Linked DNA regions of Homo sapiens. The protein of the gene in region 5 purifies or fractionates together with the protein of the main gene of each other region. This does not show direct contact. Each region holds a gene or a part of one and is shown on either strand. Other genes may lie near its edges.

What was found.
Region 1: the proteins of MPV17 (region 5) and RALA fractionate together in Homo sapiens (co-fractionation; one large-scale study listed by BioGRID). This does not show direct contact.
Region 2: the proteins of MPV17 (region 5) and SCFD1 fractionate together in Homo sapiens (co-fractionation; one large-scale study listed by BioGRID). This does not show direct contact.
Region 3: the proteins of MPV17 (region 5) and MSLN fractionate together in Homo sapiens (co-fractionation; one large-scale study listed by BioGRID). This does not show direct contact.
Region 4: the proteins of MPV17 (region 5) and SLC25A24 fractionate together in Homo sapiens (co-fractionation; one large-scale study listed by BioGRID). This does not show direct contact.
Region 6: the proteins of MPV17 (region 5) and NDUFA10 fractionate together in Homo sapiens (co-fractionation; one large-scale study listed by BioGRID). This does not show direct contact.

The regions. Positions count from the first base shown.
Region 1 is NC_000007.14:39,696,572-39,700,071, reverse strand, and holds part of RALA (ras-related protein Ral-A precursor), read right to left. Parts: intron 3,388-3,500; coding exon 3,213-3,387; intron 1-3,212. UniProt on the Homo sapiens protein: Multifunctional GTPase involved in a variety of cellular processes including gene expression, cell migration, cell proliferation, oncogenic transformation and membrane trafficking.
Region 2 is NC_000014.9:30,670,819-30,674,318, forward strand, and holds part of SCFD1 (sec1 family domain-containing protein 1), read left to right. Parts: intron 1-2,438; coding exon 2,439-2,529; intron 2,530-3,105; coding exon 3,106-3,179; intron 3,180-3,500. UniProt on the Homo sapiens protein: Plays a role in SNARE-pin assembly and Golgi-to-ER retrograde transport via its interaction with COG4. Involved in vesicular transport between the endoplasmic reticulum and the Golgi.
Region 3 is NC_000016.10:763,734-766,547, reverse strand, and holds part of MSLN (mesothelin isoform 1 preproprotein), read right to left. Parts: intron 2,526-2,814; coding exon 2,405-2,525; intron 1,902-2,404; coding exon 1,822-1,901; intron 1,642-1,821; coding exon 1,512-1,641; intron 1,439-1,511; coding exon 1,245-1,438; intron 1,022-1,244; coding exon 931-1,021; intron 858-930; coding exon 758-857; intron 490-757; coding exon 311-489; intron 214-310; coding exon 58-213; intron 1-57. UniProt on the Homo sapiens protein: Membrane-anchored forms may play a role in cellular adhesion. Megakaryocyte-potentiating factor (MPF) potentiates megakaryocyte colony formation in vitro.
Region 4 is NC_000001.11:108,141,344-108,144,843, forward strand, and holds part of SLC25A24 (mitochondrial adenyl nucleotide antiporter SLC25A24), read right to left. Parts: intron 2,368-3,500; coding exon 2,200-2,367; intron 1-2,199. UniProt on the Homo sapiens protein: Electroneutral antiporter that mediates the transport of adenyl nucleotides through the inner mitochondrial membrane. Originally identified as an ATP-magnesium/inorganic phosphate antiporter, it also acts as a broad specificity adenyl nucleotide antiporter.
Region 5 is NC_000002.12:27,313,098-27,316,597, forward strand, and holds part of MPV17 (mitochondrial inner membrane protein Mpv17), read right to left. Parts: intron 13-3,500; coding exon 1-12. UniProt on the Homo sapiens protein: Non-selective channel that modulates the membrane potential under normal conditions and oxidative stress, and is involved in mitochondrial homeostasis.
Region 6 is NC_000002.12:240,001,343-240,004,842, forward strand, and holds part of NDUFA10 (NADH dehydrogenase [ubiquinone] 1 alpha subcomplex subunit 10, mitochondrial isoform 1 precursor), read right to left. Parts: intron 1-3,500. UniProt on the Homo sapiens protein: Accessory subunit of the mitochondrial membrane respiratory chain NADH dehydrogenase (Complex I), that is believed not to be involved in catalysis. Complex I functions in the transfer of electrons from NADH to the respiratory chain.

The DNA.
Region 1 (3,500 bases), on a different chromosome or scaffold from region 5:
ATGCCCGTGGATCCCAAAATCTCTACCTACTCAAGTCCCGCAGCTGGCCCTGCAGAACACATGGATGCAAAAAGCCAGCCCTCCGCATATGCAGGTTTCACATCCTGCTGTATTCTCTGTCTGCATTTGGTTGTGGATGCAGAGCCCACCGACATGGAGGCAGACTGCATCTGTGAAAAAAAAATCTGCACAGCTCAAATCTGTGTTGTTTGAGGGCCAAGTGTCCATGAATATGGCAAAAAGTTCACAAGGGTATTTACAGTGAAAAAAGCATAAACTGTGGCTTAATTCTCTGGAGGCAACCACAGGTACCAGAGTCTTACATATCCTTATGATGTGTACATAGATAATGTGTATGTATGTGTGTTTAAAACACATGGCAGCAAGCTACAGACACCACTCTGTACTTTGTTTCACTTACTTTATAATTGAAGATCATCTGATATCAGCACATTTAGTTCTATCCTCATTTCTTTTTAATGGTTGGGCAAAACTCCATTATTTAAACCAGTCCATTACTGAACACTTGGATATTTCCAGTCTTTTGCTTCTAAAAATAATGCTTCACTGACTACCACTGAACATACACGTATACGTGAGTGCATAATTTGTTCTGTATAATAACATTTTTAGGCCGGGCGTGGTGGCTCACGCCTGTAATCCCAGCACTTTGGGAGGCCGAGGCGGGTGGATCATGAGGTCAGGAGATCAAGACCATCCTGGCTAACAAGGTGAAACCCCGTCTCTACTAAAAATACAAAAAATTAGCCGGGCGCGGTGGCGGGCGCCTGTAGTCCCAGCTACTCGGGAGGCTGAGGCAGGAGAATGGCGTGAACCCGGGAAGCAGAGCTTGCAGTGAGCCGAGATTGCGCCACTGCAGTCCGCAGTCCGGCCTGGGCGACAGAGCGAGACTCCGTCTCAAAAAAAAAAAAAAAAAAAAAAAAAAAAAATAACATTTTTAGCACTTAAATTGCTGGGTCATAATTCTGATGGGTATCACAAAACTGCCCTTCCACCAACATATGAGAGGTTCCTGTTTTTCTATACTCTTGCTAACAGTATATTCTATTCTCAACCTCTTTGCTTTTTTTCTCCCAAAGTGACGGGTAAAAAAAGGACATTCCACTATATTTTAAAGTTGTACTTCCCTTTTTATAAGTGAGACCGAGCCTCTCTTCCAGTTTAAAGGCCATTTGTGTTTCCTTTCTACGACATGCCAGTTGCTGTTTTTGGGCCATTTTCCCTAGGCTTTTGTCCTGTAAGAGCTGTGCTAATACAGACACCATACTTCCCAGGGCCTCTGATGCCAACAGATGATCACCACAAGGACTGTTACAATATAGCTTTCTATCTTGGATTGCCAGTGTCTGCATCTCTTCCCCACTCCCCTTAGGTTCAAATAGTTTTTATAGTGTGTTCTACAACCTACTCGAAACATCGATTAGAAAAGTATATATATGCTATGAGAATGTTCAACGTTGCCTTTTAAAACCTCAAACACCCTCAATCTTAACATATATTTTCATTAGTATTTTAAAAATATTTGCCATACAAATTGTCTCTTCAAATCTATAATTTTCTAATGACTTAGAAATGGCAGGCACAGGCTGGGCATTTTACATATGTGATTTCATTTCATCTTTACAATAATCCTATGAAGCAGGTATTCTTGTTCCCATTTCCAAATGGAAGCTAACTGAAATACCCAAGCCCTAGTTACTGTGTTCAGAAACCATGGTTCCCAGGAAACTATGATAGGGCATGCTATGGACTGAATGCTTGTGTCACCCCAAAATTCATATACTGAAACCCGAATTCCTTATGTGATGGCAATAAGAGATGGGGCCTTTGGGTCGTAATTACGTCACTAGGGTAGGGTTGTCATAATGGAATTAGTATCCTAAGAAGAATCAGGAGAGCTATCTCTCTCTCTCTGTCATGTGAGGATGCAGCAGGAAGGTATAAGGAAATCCAGCAAATCAGGAAGAAAGCCCTCTCCAGAATCATTTTGTCTAAGACCTTGATCTTGGACTCGCCAGCCTCCAGAACTGTGAGAAATAACTTTGTTATTTAAGCAAAACACACATACACACACATACACACACACACACACACACACACACTTGCCCTAGTCCTAACCTTAGAAAAAATTCGTATCCTGAATAGAATCCTGTAGTACTCACTTTGTACAGATATCTTAGACCTAAAGGAATCTGACAATGTCTTAAAAAGTTAAGAAGCTTAAGACAGCAACGACACTGTCTTAAGACCTACAGCAAAATAACAGAACAAATCTCAAACTTTTTTTTTAACCTAGTACTTTCTGGATCAGGGTTATAAATCTACAAGCACATGCAGCACTTGCTAGAATCATAAATTCTTAGGCCCCATTCCAGACCAAATGAATCCAAATCTCTAGGGGTAAGACCCAAGAATGTGTGTTTATCAAGATTTACAGGCAGTTCTTTTGCCTATTGGAGCTTGAGAGGCACACTATAGAGCCTAGATACTTGCAGGCTGAAGAAAGACCCCACTTGGAGGCCTTTAAGATTCTGTGCTACCTCAGCCCAGTGAGCAGTCTTTCTAGATACTGGAGCTGGTCTAGGGCAGTGGGATGAAATGTACTTGCAGGTGTTCCACATCTGGTCTTCAGGAAGGGCCACTCTGAACAAAGCGAGAAGACAAGAAAGGAGGGCAGAGTGTTTACTTTCCTTTCTTTCTCTTTCAGGAGAAAACAAAGGTTGAGGGTGGGGAGTGGAGAGTGGCAGGAGAGATTTTAAAACGCTCTTATCTGGGGGCTTCTTCATCTTGGGAGGTACCCTTATTTTTAAGAACTTAAGTGGGGTTGGGTAGATGTCAGGTCAGAGGTAAGAACGGTTTAGTGCTGGAATCTTGGGACTCACACGATTCCTTCTAAATTATCCAAAGACTCAATAGGATAAGGGGGGAAAAAAGTCAGGAATGCCATCAGTGCTTTAAAAAGAAAAAAAGTACATTTAGCTGTAGTGTCTCATGTTTTAATGTCTCTTGGGAAGCTAAGGACAAGGTGAACTAAAATTCCTAACATGTATCTGAGTATTCAGGGATGATAAAAATCAACAAGGATTAAACCTCTATTTGAAAGTTTCATAGACTCTCCAGACAAAATGGAGCCAAGTTAAAGCAAACCAACCTATTTTAACATGATGCAGTAGTAAAGAGTCACGTGTTACCTTGTCAACATTAGCTCGTGTTTTAGCAGATGTTTCCACGTAGTTAACATTCCACTGCTCAGCTCTGTTTTTTGCCTCTTCTACAGAAACCTGTCTTTTATCTTCTAAATCTGATTTGTTACCAACCAGTAGAAATGGAACATTCTCATCTTCTTTTACTCTTAAAATCTGCTCCCTGGATAAGAGAAAATGAAAAAGAAATATTAACATTATAAGGATAGCACAGAAAGTTCTTGTTTGCCCCATACCTATTTTTCCCTATTGTTAACATCTACTACTGTGGTACAC
Region 2 (3,500 bases), on a different chromosome or scaffold from region 5:
AAATTTATTCAAAGTACATTAGAAATAATGAGTGATAAAACTGCATTAATTTGCCATGTGATTTACTGTGGGCAGATATACATATCCCATGTGATGCTATGCCCCCTTAAAGTTTAGGGTACTTCATGGGCTCAGTTACTGCTATAAAAGTTATCTAGTGATCATTATGGCTAGAGCCATCATTCTAAACAAACAAAAATATTATTCCTCAGAGAAAAAGAATACTGTTCATCAACAATTATGAAAATATGATTTTTAAAAAATATTTCAAAATGTGTGTGTGTCCTTGATATAGCTGTTCTTTTTGGGCTTATATTTATTGTTTAAAGAGAAGTCGAATATAGACTTGGTTCAACATGCTGGGTTTTTAATATGCTTTATCTTTTTTTTACTTACAACTTTTTTTTAAGCTGGAAAATCAAATCGCCATAACAAAGATTTGACTTTCTCTGCAGAGAAAAGTCACTGTCTTTCTCTTTCTCACTATGGCAGTTTTAGGTACTATTTTAATTAATTTTAATAAATTTGATTTTAAATAATACTCTTCCCTTTGGAATTCCATAATCTACGTTTCCCTCCAGAATGGTGAAGTACAAGAAATTACTTTTATTAGAGAGGCATTATTTATAGAGAATACAGAATATTTTGAAGTTGGCATTCCCTAATAGAGAAAAGCTTAAGAAAAAAATCTCTGTATTCAAATATGGAAATTTTGAATTTTTTTAGAACATATGTTTAAGAACAATTTAAGAGGTCAGTTGAATAGTAAGAATTTTAACCTCCTATTCATTAAGTAGGAATAGCTCTTTTGCTCTGCATCTTACATACAATAGTAACATGGGCACAAAGACACTTGGAGATAGCATAAACAAGTGACCTAAACCTCTCTGAGCTTCAGTTTCCTCATCAGTAAAATAGGGAGATAATAATTCTACCTATTGCCCTATTTCAGAAGGTTGTTGAGAAGATTGAGATAATGAATTTAAAGGAGTAATTTGCCCAAGTCATCCAGCTTTCGTTGGTAAAGCCAGGGATGAAACCCAGGTCTTGCAGACCATAAAGCACCCAGTCTTAACATTGAATAGTTAAGTTATGATAGTTACCTCAACAGATTCATCAGGATTAAATGAGGTTGCAGTGAGCCGAGATCACGCCATTGCACTCCAGCCTGGGCAACAAGAGCAAAACTCCATCTTAAAAAAAAAAAAAAGAAAGAAAAGATAAATTCTTAGCATGGTGTTTGATGTATAGTAAAATCACTTAATAAATGTGAGCAATTATTCTCTGTTAACTCTGAGACCTAAAGATATCAGAGATTTTGAGGATTATCCAGTTCAACCCACACATTTTACAGATAAAGCTAGGGCCCTGAGAGGGTAAGAGCTTGCCTGTAAAGGAAGTTTCCATTATAATTAGATGGAACAAGGGTTTCTGACTCCCCAGTGCAATGCTGAGGCCTCAGTGCTATTTTTTGCCAACATAGACTCAACTGGAGCTGGAGTAAATGCCTGTGCTTGTGAGGTAAAATTGGACTGTGTTCCTCAGAATCCTTTCTGAGCTCCTGTCTTTTCTGCTAGTCTCCATTGGATAAAATGTGCTTGTTATTAGAGAGGTATTTTCAGATGTCAGAGCTGAGGAAGGGGGGAAAGGTTTTTGTTCACTGTTAATGAGACATGACCTTTTCTTTCTTAAAGGAGAAAAGGCTTCTGGCCTCCCCCTAGGCTGTAGATGAAAAATACTCATTTTAAGAAACATTTAATGATCAACATGTATTCACCTAGAGTTTGTCAAGATTAGTACAGTGTTTTCTACCTGAGTGCTCATGATTGCAGATCACTTCTGCCTAAAGTCTATGTAAGTTACTGCTAAACCACAATGTCCTGGTAGAAGACATCAGGTATTAGGCCACCAAAACTGTGGCCCAAGTGCTATTTTTACCAGTAGTGTTCTGGGATATTATGAGTTCTGAGTTACAAGAATTTTTTCACAGTTACTTGCAGGTGATATTTTTAAATGCTGTCTTTGTAGTTGCATGGACCCTTTGACATGACGTGTTAATTTGGATGGGAATATTTAATTGATATTTGATATAACATGACTTGTCTTCCATTGATTTTCAGTCATGTAAATATTTTACTTTTTCTTCTAAAAACGTATAAGTGAAGAGAATGTATGATACTGTTAATGAAAAATAGAAATGAAATTTAAATTTTAGATGTATATTATATGCATTTTAAAGAAATAGTATTATATAGATATCAGAAAGATATGTAGTTGTATTTGTGCTGAATCTTTTCTGCCTTTGTTATATATAACATATATTCAAATCCAAATAAGTATATTTAAAATAATAAATGTTCATTGTATATATTTTAGAATTTACACAAAAATTGGTCTTTTAATGTCATCCTCATAGTTCTTGTGCAATACTGTTTTAGTCCATTCCCAGAAGTTGCAGAATCAGTTCAGCAAGAACTAGAATCTTACAGAGCACAGGAAGATGAGGTCAAACGACTTAAAAGCATTATGGTAAGATTCTATTTGCTTTCTAAGAATTATAGGAAAGAGGAGGATTATCTGTTAGATAAAGAGATTTGGGTTTTTTTCCTTATAAAAATTGAAGGCCATTTAATGCTTTTATAACAAAAATATTTTCAACTTGCGTAAGTGATCAAAAAGAAATCTAAATATTGAGAAGAGAAAAAATAATATATGATTTGAAAAAATATATAATGTAGCATCATTTTAGAGATGTATGTTCCAATGCTGCTCATTCTACCATACTTCGATGTAACTTCAGATTTCAGCTCTACTGTTTATTGCTGTGTGACCTATGGCACGTCTCTGGGCCTGTCTCCTTATCCAAAAATGCCAGCTGATCATTTAGACATCTAACCATTAGACTGGCGATTACTAGAACTTTTATGTAACATTAAAATATATATGCTTGCACCTCAGAGGAGGAGAATTACTATTCTAGGTGACTTAAAAATCTTACGGTATATCAATAATCTTAGGATATTTGCTCCAATCTTAGGATGTGTTGATTTTTATGCTTGTGCCTGGGATTTTTGAGTAGCTATTGAGACCTTTTTTCTTTACAAGGGACTAGAAGGGGAAGATGAAGGAGCCATAAGTATGCTTTCTGACAATACCGCTAAGCTAACATCAGCTGTTAGGTAAGTGAGCAGTATATCCTCTTTGAAGTCTTTCTGTTGATAGGATTTTTTTTTTATTTAACTAAAAAATTGTTAATGTTTTTAACTAGTAGGAAACTGTAGGCAATAGCAAATATAACTTTGAATTTAAAGAACTAAATTGTATTTAGCTAAATGTTTAAGCCGATTTTAGTTCCCTCTTAGATATAGGAGATTATTCATTCTTTCACCAGTTAGAACTGTGTAATAGGGGTAATTTTATGAGGAAAATACTATTAATGATAAAGTAGGGCAAGCGATTATTAATTTTATTATAGATACTGTTTTCTTAACTAAAAGTTA
Region 3 (2,814 bases), on a different chromosome or scaffold from region 5:
TCTGCCCCTCAGCCCTTCCCAATCTCATGCCACATGACCCCCGAGCCGGACGGTCACCTGAGGACTCATTTCGTGCCCTTTGTTGACTTCAAGCAAAGCCTTCAGGGTCTCCAGGGACGTCACATTCCACTTGCGAATGTCCTCAGGGCTCATCTTGAGGAAGAGGTAGCCCAGGTGCTGGATCACAGACTCGGGGTAACCTTGTGGGTAGAGCTGCAGGCCAAGAGACCAGGAGGGCCCATGTCACTCCCAGAGGGGCTGGGGATGGCTTGGACACAGCAGGCCGGTGGGAACTTGAGTCATGAACTACCTCATCCAGTTTATGCTTTAGGACGTCCAGCTGCTCGTAGGTGAAGGGGATGGCGTTCACGCGGTCCATCTGGGTGGCCAGCAGGGCCGCATCCACGCAGGCTTCCAGCTCCCACTTCTTGTAGAAGATGAGGCTCTCGTCTATCTCGCGGGCCTTCTTGCCTGAAGGACAGGCTGTCTCTGCAGGGCACAGGGGTCAGGGGTCAGGGCCGGAGTTCGTTTGACCCCTTCTTCCTCCCACACCTCCTGTGAGATGAGACCTCGGGCCATTTGTGACCCTCCCTGTGCCTCAGTTTACCCACTGGCAAACAGGGATTCTGTCCACTCTCTGTGATTATAATGGGATGTGCTGCAGAGCCAGGGAGGGGCAGGTGAGACCCTAAAGTGATGCCCACCCCCAGGGGTGCTGCCCAGCCTGGTGCCAGACTGCGCAGGGCACGGCACTCACTCTCCACTTCCCGCCGGAACCGCGGCCGGAGGATGGTCCGTTCAGGCTGCCGCCAGGATGGGTCCCGAGAGGAGCGTTGCCGCCACGCGGCCACGATGCCCTGAGGACGAGCAGGACCTGGGCTGAGCCTCGGGTGGCCGGGCATCCCCACGGGCTGGGGATTGGGGTCTCACCTGCGGGATGCTGCGGATGATGGGCTGGCCCAGCACGGGCAGCAGGCCCCGCAGAGCGTCCATCGTGGAGACAGACCATGTCGACGGGGGGCTGTGCAGACACGGGACACAGCTCAGGGACCCCCCACGTGCAGCCCCAGAGAGGGAAGAGGCCAGGCCGTACCCCCTGGCTGTGGAGGGGACGCTGGGGGCATTGGCAGGGGTGGTGGCGGGGGTGACTGACCCTGGGCCTTGAGGCATGGCCGCAAGTGTCCTCACGCTGCTGATACCACGCCGCCAGGTGAGCCTTCGAGGTTCCAGACACCTTCACTTACCCGTAGGGGGGTCCCCCGCCCTGCAGAGCCGCCCTGGCTGCCTCCTGCTGGTCCTGGTCCAGGGGTCCCGGGCAGCTCACCAGCCGGGGTAGCAGCACTTCGGCCGACTCGGCCACAAAGCGCCCAGGCAGGTCGCAAGCCAGGCCTCCCAGAGCCCGCACATCAGCCTCGCTCAGCAGAGACCCCCGCACACCCTGCAGAGAGGCTGGCCTCAGCGCTTTTGGAACTGCCGAGCCCTCTCCGCCCCGCGCTGGCCCCAGCCCCTACCCAGCAGGCCAGAGCCGCAGGCAGCAGCCGCTGTCGCTCGGGAGCCCCCCTCGGGAGCAGGTCCACATTGGCCTTCGTGATGCGGGAGAAGAAACGGGTGCAGGCCTGGGGCCCCGAGAACGCATCTGGGCTGTGAAGAGAGGGTGCTGGGGACAGGCCGCACTGATCACACCCGTCCCCACCCTGAGAGGCAGCCCGGCCGGCCTCCACATCTCTGCTGTGGCCTGGGATCCGAGGCAAGGGGCAGGGGGTTGGGGGCTGAGGGCTGGCGGCAAAAGCCGGGGGGGTGGGTTCAGGGGGCAGGGCCTACTTGAGGAATAGCAGCAGGTCCAATGGGAGGGCGTCCAGGTCCTCGGGGGGCTCAGAGAGCCGGTGAGCCAGACAGCGCAGCTGCAGGGGCAGGGAGTCCAGCACAGAGCGTTTCGAGCCGCCACTCACATGGTGGGCCAGGGTCGCCTGGCCAGTCTGCCCACCACAACACACCCCTGCCCTGGCCACGAGAATCTGTGGAAGTGGATCTCTGGCCGCCTGCAGCGCTGCCCTGGGGGATGGGGGCTCCCGTGCCTGGCTCCGCTCCCCTTCCCCAGATCTCACCCACTCCCCCGAAAAAGATTCACCCTTGGGGCAGAGCCTGGAGGGCTGCCCACGGCGCTCCAGGAGGGGGCCCAGCACACAGCGTCATATCAGACTTGCTCCTGGGGAGCCAGCCCCTGACGTGGACAGGCACCCCAGTGGTCAGCTTGGGTGGCCAGAGGAACTCTGGGAAGAACTGGCCGGGGAGAGATGGCAGCAGGGACAGAGGGGACCGTGGTGGCAAGGTGGGCACTGCAGAGCTGCCTGTGAATTCCTCAGCCCCAGCTGTGCCCACCTGCCTCAGCCCAACTGAGACTGACCTGCTCTGTTGAGAGCTTGACATTCTTCTGTGCCAAGGCCACAGCCAGCTCCCGGACACGCTCCGTGCTCAGGCCGGACACCTCCGCACACGGGAAGCCAAGGAGTTGGCGAGGGGAGAGGCTGCAGGAAGGGTCGGGCTGGGCACCCACGATCGCCCCTCCCCTGCAATGTCCACCCAGTGCTCCCCAAGCCCCACAGCCCCACCTCTCCCCAAAGGACCCTGGTGCTCCCTGCAGACCTCCCCCCAAGACCAGGTGACGCCCTCAAGGGCCGGGAGTTGCCATCACCTGAGGGGTGTCAGTCCCTCCCGCAGTCCTGAGCCCAGTCAGATCTGAGGTGGAGCAGAGGAGGAAGGGGGAGGGGATGCTGGGGGATGGGGTGCCCTGCCCACCCTCAGTCCCGAGGGCCC
Region 4 (3,500 bases), on a different chromosome or scaffold from region 5:
CACCACCCCACTTAATGGTGTTGGGGAGGACATGGAGAAATTGGAATCTTGGTGTACATTGATAGAAATGTTAAAAAACAAAAAGGTCTAGTTACTATGGAAAATGACATGGAGGTTCCTCAAAAACTTAAAAATAGAATTACCATTTGACCCAGAAATTCCACTTCTGAGTATATGTCAAAAAGAACTGAAAACAGTATCTTGAAGAGATATTTGCACAACCATGTTCACTGCAGCACTATTCACAATAGTCAAGATGTAGAAACAATCCAAATGTCCATCAACAGATGAATAAAGAAAATGTGATATATATACCCAACAAATTATTATTCAGCCTTAAAAACAAAAAAGTCCTGTTGTATGCTATCATATGGATGAATCATGAGGAAACTATGTTACATGAAATAAGCCAGTCACGGAAAGAGAAATACCACATGATTTCACTTATACAAGGTATTTAATGTAGTCAAACTCATAAAACGAGAAAGTAGGTTACACAGCGCTGGGGTGAAGGGGAAATTGGGAGCTGTTGTTTAATGACTATAGAGTTTAAGTTTTGAGAAGTGAAAAAGTTCTAGAGATCTGTTGCACAACAAACCACAAACAGTTAACACTTACTGTACTATATATTTAAAAATGGTTAAAATCATAAACTTTATGTTATGTGTTTTTAATCACAATTTTTTAAAAAACTCAGCACAAGAAGTAAAGTCCTGAACCATACCACCTCACACCTAAGAGGACGGCCATAATAAAAATAAGCTTTTTTAAAATGGAAATTAAGTGTTAATAAGGACGTGGAAAAACTGGAACCTTTGTATGTTGCTGGTGAGAATGTAAGTGCAGCCACTATGGAAAACAGTCTGATAGTTCCTAAAAGCTAAACACAGAATGACCATATGGCTCAGCAATTCCATTCTGAGATATATACCCAAAGGAATTGAAGGCATAGACTCGAACAGATACGCAGATGCCAATGTTCACTGCAGCATTATTCACAATGTTGGAAAAGTAGAAATAATCCAAATGCTCTTCAACAGATGAAGGACTAAACAAAATGTGGTATATACACATAACGGAATATTACTCAGCCATGAAAAGAAATGAAGTTCTGATACATGCTACAACATGAACAAACCTTAGAGACATTATGCTAAGAGTAATAAATCAGACACAAAAAGAAAAATACTGTATGATTCTACTTATAAGATATCTTGAATGGGTAAATTCCTAGACATAGAAAGCAGATTAGAGGTTACCAAAGGTTTGAGTTACGGAGGGTAGGAAGTTATTGCTTAAAGGTTAAGGTGTTTCTGTTTGGAGTGAGGAAAAGGATTTGGAAATAGTGTTGATGGTTGCACAATATTGTGAATGTAATTAATGCCACTGAATTGTACACTTAAAATTAGTAAAATGGCAAATTTTATATTTTATAATAATTTTTAAAAATTATGTAAGAAGCCAAAAACCATTTGCTTGTACACTTCAAATGAGTGAAATGTAAGGAATATGAACTAAATCTCAATAAAGCTCTTTAAAAAAAAAATTCGACTCTTCTTTTCATTACACATTCCACTCTTCCTCTACGCTGTAGCTTAGGTCTCATCCTAACATGCACCCTGGCTCATGTCTGTCGCAGCACAGATAACCACGCTGAGTTTTAGTCGTTTGTCTCCCCCACCAGACCTTCAGTTTCTTCAAGGCACACATTGAGTCCTTTGAATCCCCAGATCCAGTGTCTAACCTAGTGGTTTGTATAGTGTGTGCTCAATAATTGTTTGTGAGATTCATAAATTATTAAATGATTTAGATTGCAGGGTTGATCCAAGATTTGTATTCTTCCGTACAAGGAATGAAACTGTATTACTCATGTTAGTCACATTAGTCACTTGGCTTAATGTCAGATTTTTGCAAATCCAAAACAAAGGAAAAAATCTCTAGAAACACCTTTTAAGGTGAACAACTATACCTAACTTTGAGTCTACTCTTCATTAACAAAAGCAATTCCCAAGAAAATCTAATACAAAAGTGACCCCATGCATATTCACACTCAAGTTACTTGAAAGTTCAAATAACACATGCTTGAATTTACTTCTGGTCACACACTGTTTTCTGGTATATATCTACTTCTTCATATAAAGTCCAATTCTAACAAGATCTAACTGCATTTTCCAATTCAAAAGATTTCTACAAACTCACCTCATACACAGCAAGATCTATGCCTGCATAAGGTATGATACCTAATAAATTGGGAACATAGCCTTTGTAAAAAGCTCCCAAGCCTTCATGTTTCAAAATCTTCTTGGCACAATCATATATTCCAGAGTACTGCCCAGTTTTGCCTACAGCCAGCCTGGTTTTCATAACCTGGATATAAAAAAAAACAAAATATGATTGTTCATATTAACTCTATCATCATGGGATTCAAATGAAGTAATTTTACATGGAACAAATACCTAGCACATATTGTCACTCAAAAGACTGTACAATTTGTTGATACATTCTCTTTCATGTATTACCTCTATTGGGGGGCTAAGACCAAAGCCAGAGAGACCCGTTTACTGCAAGGAGGATCTGATGAAGGAAGTGACCAAGGAAATGGAAGCAAGATAATCTATTGATGTCTTAACAAAACTGACTGGTGACCACCTGCATCTGGAAGGTGAGGGAAATGGTAGTATAAAGGATAACCCCAATACTTCTAGCTTGGAACACAGGATGGGGCAGTGGGGAGTTGGGAAGGTGATACTATTAACTGATATGGAGGATATGAGAGGAAAAATAGGTATTAAGTTTTTTTGAGAGGTGTGTGGAGTAATATAAACAATCATATTAAGATGCTTAAAAAAAGCTGTATTAGCATGCATACCACATATCGGTGAAAATTGTATTTATCTTGCTTAAGTCATCAGTTACTAAAAACCCCTCTGCTATATCAATAAATTCCACATCTACAATATTATTTTTGCTATAAAGCAGTAGTTGGAAAACTTTTCCTGTAAAGACTAAATAGTAAAATATCTGTCGTTGCAAGCCTAAAATATTAGGTCTCGGTTGTATATTACTTTTCTTTTCTTTTGTTTTTGCCTACTTTTTAAAAATTGTACTTTAAGTTCTGGGATACATGTGCAGAACGTGCAGGTTTGTTACATAGGTATACACGTGCCATGGTGGTTTGCTGCACCCATCAACCTGTCACCTACATTAGGTATTTCTTCTAATGCTATTCCTCCCCTAGCCCCTCATCCCCAAAAAGGCCCCAGTGTGTGATGTTCCCCTCCCTGTGTCCATGTATTCTCATTGTTCAACTCCAACTTATGAGTGAGAACATGTGGTGTTTGGTTTTCTGTTCCTGTGTTAGGTTGCTGAGAATGATGGCTTCCAGCTTCATCCATGTCCCTACAAAGGACATGAACTCATCCTTGTTTATGGCTGCATAGTATTCCATGGTGTATATGTGCCATATTTTGTTTATCTAGTCTATCACTGATGGGCATTTG
Region 5 (3,500 bases):
CCATCAGGGACCCTATGCAGGGTACACAGGTGTTGTCAGGACATCTCCTGGGATGGGCTGCCATTCCAAGGAGGGAGGGACATCTGCTGACCTCCACTGAGGCTCTGGTACTCTGAACCCCAGGGCTTCATTGTGGAAACAAATGACTAGTCCCTTCCTGCTGCCTCAAAGCCCTCACCTCCCCAATGATGGTGACACCTCATGTGTATTCTGTCAGAAACTGGGATGAGCAGACCCAGGTCCAGGAACTTTGCATTGAGCAGTAAAGGGAAGTCAGAGTCAGAAAGTATAGAGAGAGGAAGGAGAATTTAAGGCCACAGGGCTGAGAACCACAGACTGTCAGAATCAAAAGGGGCTTTAAGATAATTTAATGCAAACCACTTATTTTAGAGGTATGGAAATGAAGTCCAGGGTCTCACATAACCAGTAAGTGCAGGGCCAATGCAACAACCAGGTGGCTGGATTCCTAGACACTGTTCTTTCCAGGACTCAGCACAATGAATAAATCATGTGTAGAATGGTAGGAAACCCTGTTTTCTCCCCCAAGCCCAATGCAAGACCCTGCCAACAGCTTTCACCTTGGTCTAGGGGATCTCTATTTGTAGAGAACAGCAAGAATAACTTTTTTTTTTAAAGACTGAGTCTCACTCTGTTGTCCAGGCTAGAGTGCAGTGGCATGATCTTGGCTCACTGCAACCTCTGCCTCCCGATTCAAGCGATTCCCCTGCCTCAGCCTCTCAAGTAGCTGGGACTACAGGCACCCACCACCATGCCTGGCTATTTTTTGTATTTTTAGTAGAGATGGGGTTTTGCCATGTTAGCCAGGCTGATCTTGAACCCCTGACCTCAGGTGATCTGCTCACCTCGGCTTCTCAAAGTGCTGAGATTACAGGCATAAGCCACTGTGCCTGGCCAGAATAAATCTTTTTCTAAAACAAGAGTGCCGGCCTGGAATGGTGGCTCACACCTGTAATCCCGGCACTCTGGGAGGCTGAGGCAGGAGGATTGCTTGAGCCCAAGAGTTTGAGTCCAGCCTGGGCAATATAGCAAGACCCCACTTCTACAAAAAATTTTTTTAAACAATTAGCTGGGCACGGTGGCACGTGCCTGTAGTCCCAGCTACTCAGGAGGCTGAAGTAGGAGGACTGTTTGAGCCCAGGAGGTCCAGGCTGCAGTGATCACGCCATTACACTGCTGCCTGGGCGACAGAACAAGACCCTATCTCAAAAAGAAAAAAAAAGTAATAAAACAAGAGTGCTCAAATGGTCATAAGCAGGAAGATGACTGGTTGAGCTGATAAGAGTCCCCACAACAAAGAGTCTTGGCCACCTCTTAGCACAATCAGCTAAACCAAGATTTCCCCCATTCACAACCTTAGATTGAGTTGGCAATGGATATAGTGGTCATTTCCCTTCCAGGACTCTGCACCTGCTTCCCTTGCCCCAACTGCACAGATACCCAGCTCCAAGCAGCCCTATTTAGACACCCACACCCAGAAACGATGAAAGAAATCATCACTGTTTACAGAGCCCCCAGTCCATTATGGTGGTGTGATGGTTTCTAGCAAATACACACTTACCAGGCCACTTGGGAGTGACCGTGTGATTTCCAGCTCACCTGTCTATCTCACCGAGTAATGAGAGCCCCCCTCCAGACCCACAGTCACACTGTCCCTGTGCCCTCAATTAGCACTGGACAAACACATCCTTCTGCCCCATTCCTTGGCCCAGAACTGGCTCTGACGTCCATGCTGGCTGCACACTCACTGTTGCGTTCTTCCTCCACACCCTCTGCCCGGCCGGCCCTGCCCCTGAGCAGCCTAGTCAGTGGCAGCTGGGTATGGCTGAGAGCTGGGGTTGGGGATGGAAACCCGTGGCTCACCTCGGCTACTGGCCATGGAGCAGCTCTGGGCACCCCCAGTCCTGCCTCGTCTCTCCCTGAAACTCCCAAAGTGGTGGGGGTCTTCCCAGAACACTGCGAGGCATGACCTCCCAGGGCCAAGGATAGAATCCTAGATACCTTTGTTATCCCATCCCCTCACCATGCAGCTAAGCAAGCTACTGGTAGGTGCTCAGAAAATAAAGGGAAAACGTCAAATGTACTGTCCCAAACAGCAGGACGACTCTGAGAAAGGGTCTGAAGAATTCTTAAGTTGCCCAAAGGTCCAAGTCGGGTAGAAGGTGTGAGGACGTCGGGGGAACTGCAGGTTTGCTCCCACCCGCACCCGGTTCCCTATCCCTCCAGCCAGGGATGAGAGGGAGCTGCTGCAGCCCTGCAGAAAGGGAAGAGTGCTGCCAAGAAGGCCAGGGGATGGTGAGGCAGAAAAGGCAGTCCTTTCTCAAATGAAGGGACCAACAGTGTAACGGTCTACTTTGGTAAGGTGTTTACAAAAGACTCTTATACATTTAATCCTCACAAAAGATCTGGGAGGTAGGTGGTCACACCTCCATTCATCCATTCATTCATTCACTCATTTATTTTTGAGATGGAGTCTCATTCTGTCGCCCAGGCTGGAGTGCAGTGGTGCGATCTCCGCTCACTGCAACCTCTGCCTTCCGGGTTCAAGCGATTCTCCTGCCTCAGCCTCCTGAGTAGCTGGGATTGCAGGTGCCCACCACCACACCTGGCTGATTTTTGTATTTTTAGTAGAGATGGGGTTTCACCATGTTAGCCAGGCTGGTCTCAAACTCCTGACCCCAGGTGATCCACCTGCCTTGGCCGCCCAAAGTGTTGGGATTATAGGTGTGAGCCACGGCACCCAGCCTACACCCCCATTTAATGATGAGTCTTTGAGAGATGAGATGACTTGGTAAGGAGTGCAGTTGGAACTGAACCCAGGCCTTCTCTCAAGGAGGACCAAGGAGGCCAGGGTATTCCTGGCATGGGCTGAGATGGGCTCAGAGGTCAGTGGCACCAGGAGGCCCCTGTGGCTGCTCCCCTGCTGGGTGTTCCTGCCCAAGTGAGGCCCCAAAGGGCCTGCATATCAAAGGACATTCCCTAGACTAATGCACTTCCTCTCTGTCTTTACTCCCCCAAATTCCATCATTCTGCTCCTTGTCACCTCGTGGGGATGGCAGACAGCAATATTCCTGGGAAAGAAACAGAGAAGTGTGTGTTTTCACTCTTCATGACTTGCCAACAGTCACACAACAAGCTAGAGGCAGAGCTGGAATGAAAAGCCAAGTCCCTGACTTCTAGCCCCATAGTTCTGGAAGCCTGCAGCCTTGGAGAAAGATGGATTCAAGTCCCCCAGACTGTGCCCATCAAGCCTGAGGGACTACCAAGTGACAGGGCAGCAGTAGGGGTGAGTAGGTGGTATGTAGATCTGCAGTCCCTGACGGTTCATTTCAGAAGAGTGGTGCCCAGGGATTCCTTTGCCCACAGATGATCAGGCCCCCTGTGCCTGCAGCAACTCCAAGGTGGTATAAGGCTTTGGAGCAAGCATAGAGCAAGCCTGCTTTTCCAGCCCAAGTGACCCTTTGGGCAGGAAGGACCCAGAC
Region 6 (3,500 bases), about 210 Mb from region 5:
AGTATAATAATATACCATAAACAGTATCATAACATAGTCCCTAAAACTTTAGTACTTATGATATATACACATGGTTCTGAGCCTTTCAAATTATTCCCACATTTAATCCCCACAACAGTCCTATGAGGTAGCTTCTATTTTCTTCCTGCTTTACAACAAGGAGACAGAGGCTCAGAGAGGTTAGGCCCCTTGCCCAGGGGCACAGTGACAGGTGAGTGGCTGAGTCCCTCTCAAGGGATCCTTCTGACCTGGTTATGAAATGGTGAGTCTCTGGTATTACAACAATCATTTTCTTCTCAGAAATATACTTTTATTTTCTCCTCTTGGTCTCCATCACCTACGCATCCCTGTCCTAAAGTTAAAATTACTCGGAATAAACCAATGTTTGATGGCCCTTGCCACAGTTCACAGCAAAGCACACACTGACTTTGCAACAAAAATGGCTGCACAGGGAATAATCAGCTGACTTCAATGACTCAGAGAAACTTCTACATTCAGACACCTCAGAGGACCCCTCTAATTTCTGGTCGGTCGCCCTGTCAATCAGCAAACTCACGGCCCTCAGGTTGAAATGTGTTGTCCACCTGGAGTAGGCACTGTAACCCTTGGCCATTGTCTCCAGGATGCAGAATATTTATTCAGAGGCCAAAAGCAGTGCTTTGTGCTTTACTTCCATCTCCTAGTAATGGCTCAGAAAGACAAGGAAGGCCGGCGCAGTGGCTCCCGCCTGTAATCCCAGCACTTCTGGAGGCCGAGGCAGGTGGATCACCTGAGGTCAGGAGTTCAAGACCAGTCTGCCCAACATGGCGAAACCCTGTCTCTACTAAAAATACAAAAAATTAGCCGGGTATAGTGGTGCATGCCTATAATCCCATCTACTCAGGAGGCTGAGGCAGGAGAATCGCCTGAACCAGGAGGCAGAGGTTGCAGTGAGCTGAGATTGCGCCACTGCACTCCAGTCTGGGCAACAAGAGCAAAACTCTGACTCAAAAAAAAAAAAAAAAAAAAAAAAAAGACAAGGAAAGCGGGTTTTGTTGTTTGTTTTACTTTCTAATGGAAGATTTGCTAGATTCCTTTCAAAAGACTTTCTAGAGAGCCAATCATTTCAGTAAGCTACTTTTAGATTAACACCATTTTATACAGTAGTCAGTATATGGAATATAATATATGAAATTTATATTTGTTTTTTCCTTCAATACACATGGCCTAGCACTCTACCTCACTGCCATAATCTTACATATGGAGGCACAGGCAGATAAAGTGACTTGTCCCAAGTCACACAGCCAGCTAAGGGCTGACCTGACCCTTCCCGTCTCCTCAGTCTGACATGAGGACCCCACAGTGTGCCTACCTTGCTCACCCTTCAGTATCCATTCCACTAACTAGAAAACTGATTTTGCAAATACTATTTTAACAGGGGGGCAGGAATTAACAAACTAAGTAGAATGACTAGTTTTTTTTAATGTAAACCTATTTTTTGCTTATTAATGCTGTACTAAAAACATCAAACAGAAGTGAACTTCTTTTGAGAGACAGAGTCTCTGTCGCCCAAGCTGGAGTACCGTGGCGTGAACACAGCTCATTGCAGCCTCAACCTCCCAGGTTCAAGTGACCCTCCCACCTTAACCTCCCAAGTAGCTGAAACTATAGGCATGCACCACCATACCCAGATAATTTTTAAATTTTTTGTAGAGATGGGGTCTCACTATATTGCCCAGGCTGGTCTCGAACTCCGGGGCTCCAGCAATCCTCCCACTTGAGCTTCCCAACGTGCTGGGTTTACAGACGTGAACGCTGCCTGGCCAGAAGTAAACTTATTACACATTCTGTTTACATTTTGATCAGTGAACTTTTAGTGACATGTGCAGTGAGCCAGCTGTCCCTCTGGTCATCCTAGGAGACTACTGTATCACTCACATCCCATCAGGCAGAGAAAGAAGGTAAGCACCAACGGCCTAAGAACACCAACATCACAGGGCCAAGAACAGAGCTGCCATCTGTAGGCACCAACTTCCTAATTTACATCCAAACGTTGAGGAGAGGGAAGTTGAGTGCCCCGGCCATCCTTGTGCCTCCAGGCCCTCGAGAGGCAAAGTGTTGGTGCAGTCTGCACAGAGCATCCTGGGTAGAGGCAGGAAGCAGCACAGGGCAGGCTCAGGCCAAGGGCTCGAGACTTAACACAAAAGGCAGATCCCCAAATAGCTACTCATGTTTCCTGCATTTTCACAAGTCAAAGACCCTCAAATTACTCCAATCTTGATTTATAAATAATCAGAATTATGATACAACAGCACTTCTCATTACAAAATCATCTCTGAATTTTGTAGAATTTATAGCCCTAAAAGAAATCAAAGTCACTCACTCCAGATACATCTCCTGAGTGCACGCTGGATATGAGGCCTGTACCAGGAACTGGGCGTTGCAGTGATGAGAAGCAGCAGGGGGTGGGTGGTGGAGGACAGACCCAAGCAGGATGAGATTCCCGGGTGGCCAGCACCAGCCAGGACAGAAGAGGCAGAGCTGGGGATCACCGGTGGGAAGGTCAATGCACAGAGACACTGCAAGAGGCAGCCGAGGGATATTTGCTGGGTGTGCAGGGTAAAGGTCTGGGCCAAGACCTACGGTGGTATCCACGCTATCCACAGCTGTGTGACTAGGTACGTCCTCAAGAAACTGAATTCAACGGACGAGACACTGCCCGGGGTCACTGTGCCTGCCAGAGCCCAGCAGCAGGCAGAAGGAACCAGAAAAAGAGAGCCCGGCCCCAGAAGGCAGCAGCTGGTGGAGGAGTGAGAGAGTGGGGGAGGAGGAGGGCATGGAACCAGGAGAAGGGAGTGGAGAAGAGGGGCAGCGGTGCTGCTTCCAGGGCCAGGGAGCAGCATGAAGACAGACAAGGGTCTGCCGCATCTGGAATGGCGAGGCCGTCTCCTTGGCAGGAGCAGTTTCAATAGAGTGGTGCAGATGAAGACAGCTTTTTTCAACCTTACCTAATCGGTATGGTTTTTGTTTTTCATTTAATAGATACCAAAGAATCCACACAATAGCTGAATGGATATAAGTCATATCGTATTACTCCTCTGCTTCAAACCCCCAAACGGCATCTCATCTCATCAGAAGAAAACCCACCAAACGCACCAAGACCTATCCGCCTTCTGCTGTGGCCTCCCCTCCTAGTCCTACCCCCTTCTGCAGTGGCCTCCCTTCCTAGTCCTGCCCTCTTCCACCGCGGCCTCCCCTCCTAGTCCTGCCCCATTCCGCCATGGCCTCCTCTCCTAGTCCTGCTCCATTCCGCTGTGGCCTCCCCTCCCCACACTTTTTCTGGCCACACTGGCTTGGCTGCTGGGCGCACCTTCCCACCACACTCCTGCCTGAAGAGCCTCTGCACCTGCCAAGCCCCTGCCCTCTGCTCACCCCACGGCCCACAGGACCCAATCCTGGCCTCACTTAGGCCTCATCCCGAGAGAGGCCCTTTGTCACCCCTAGCTACTCACCACCCTGTT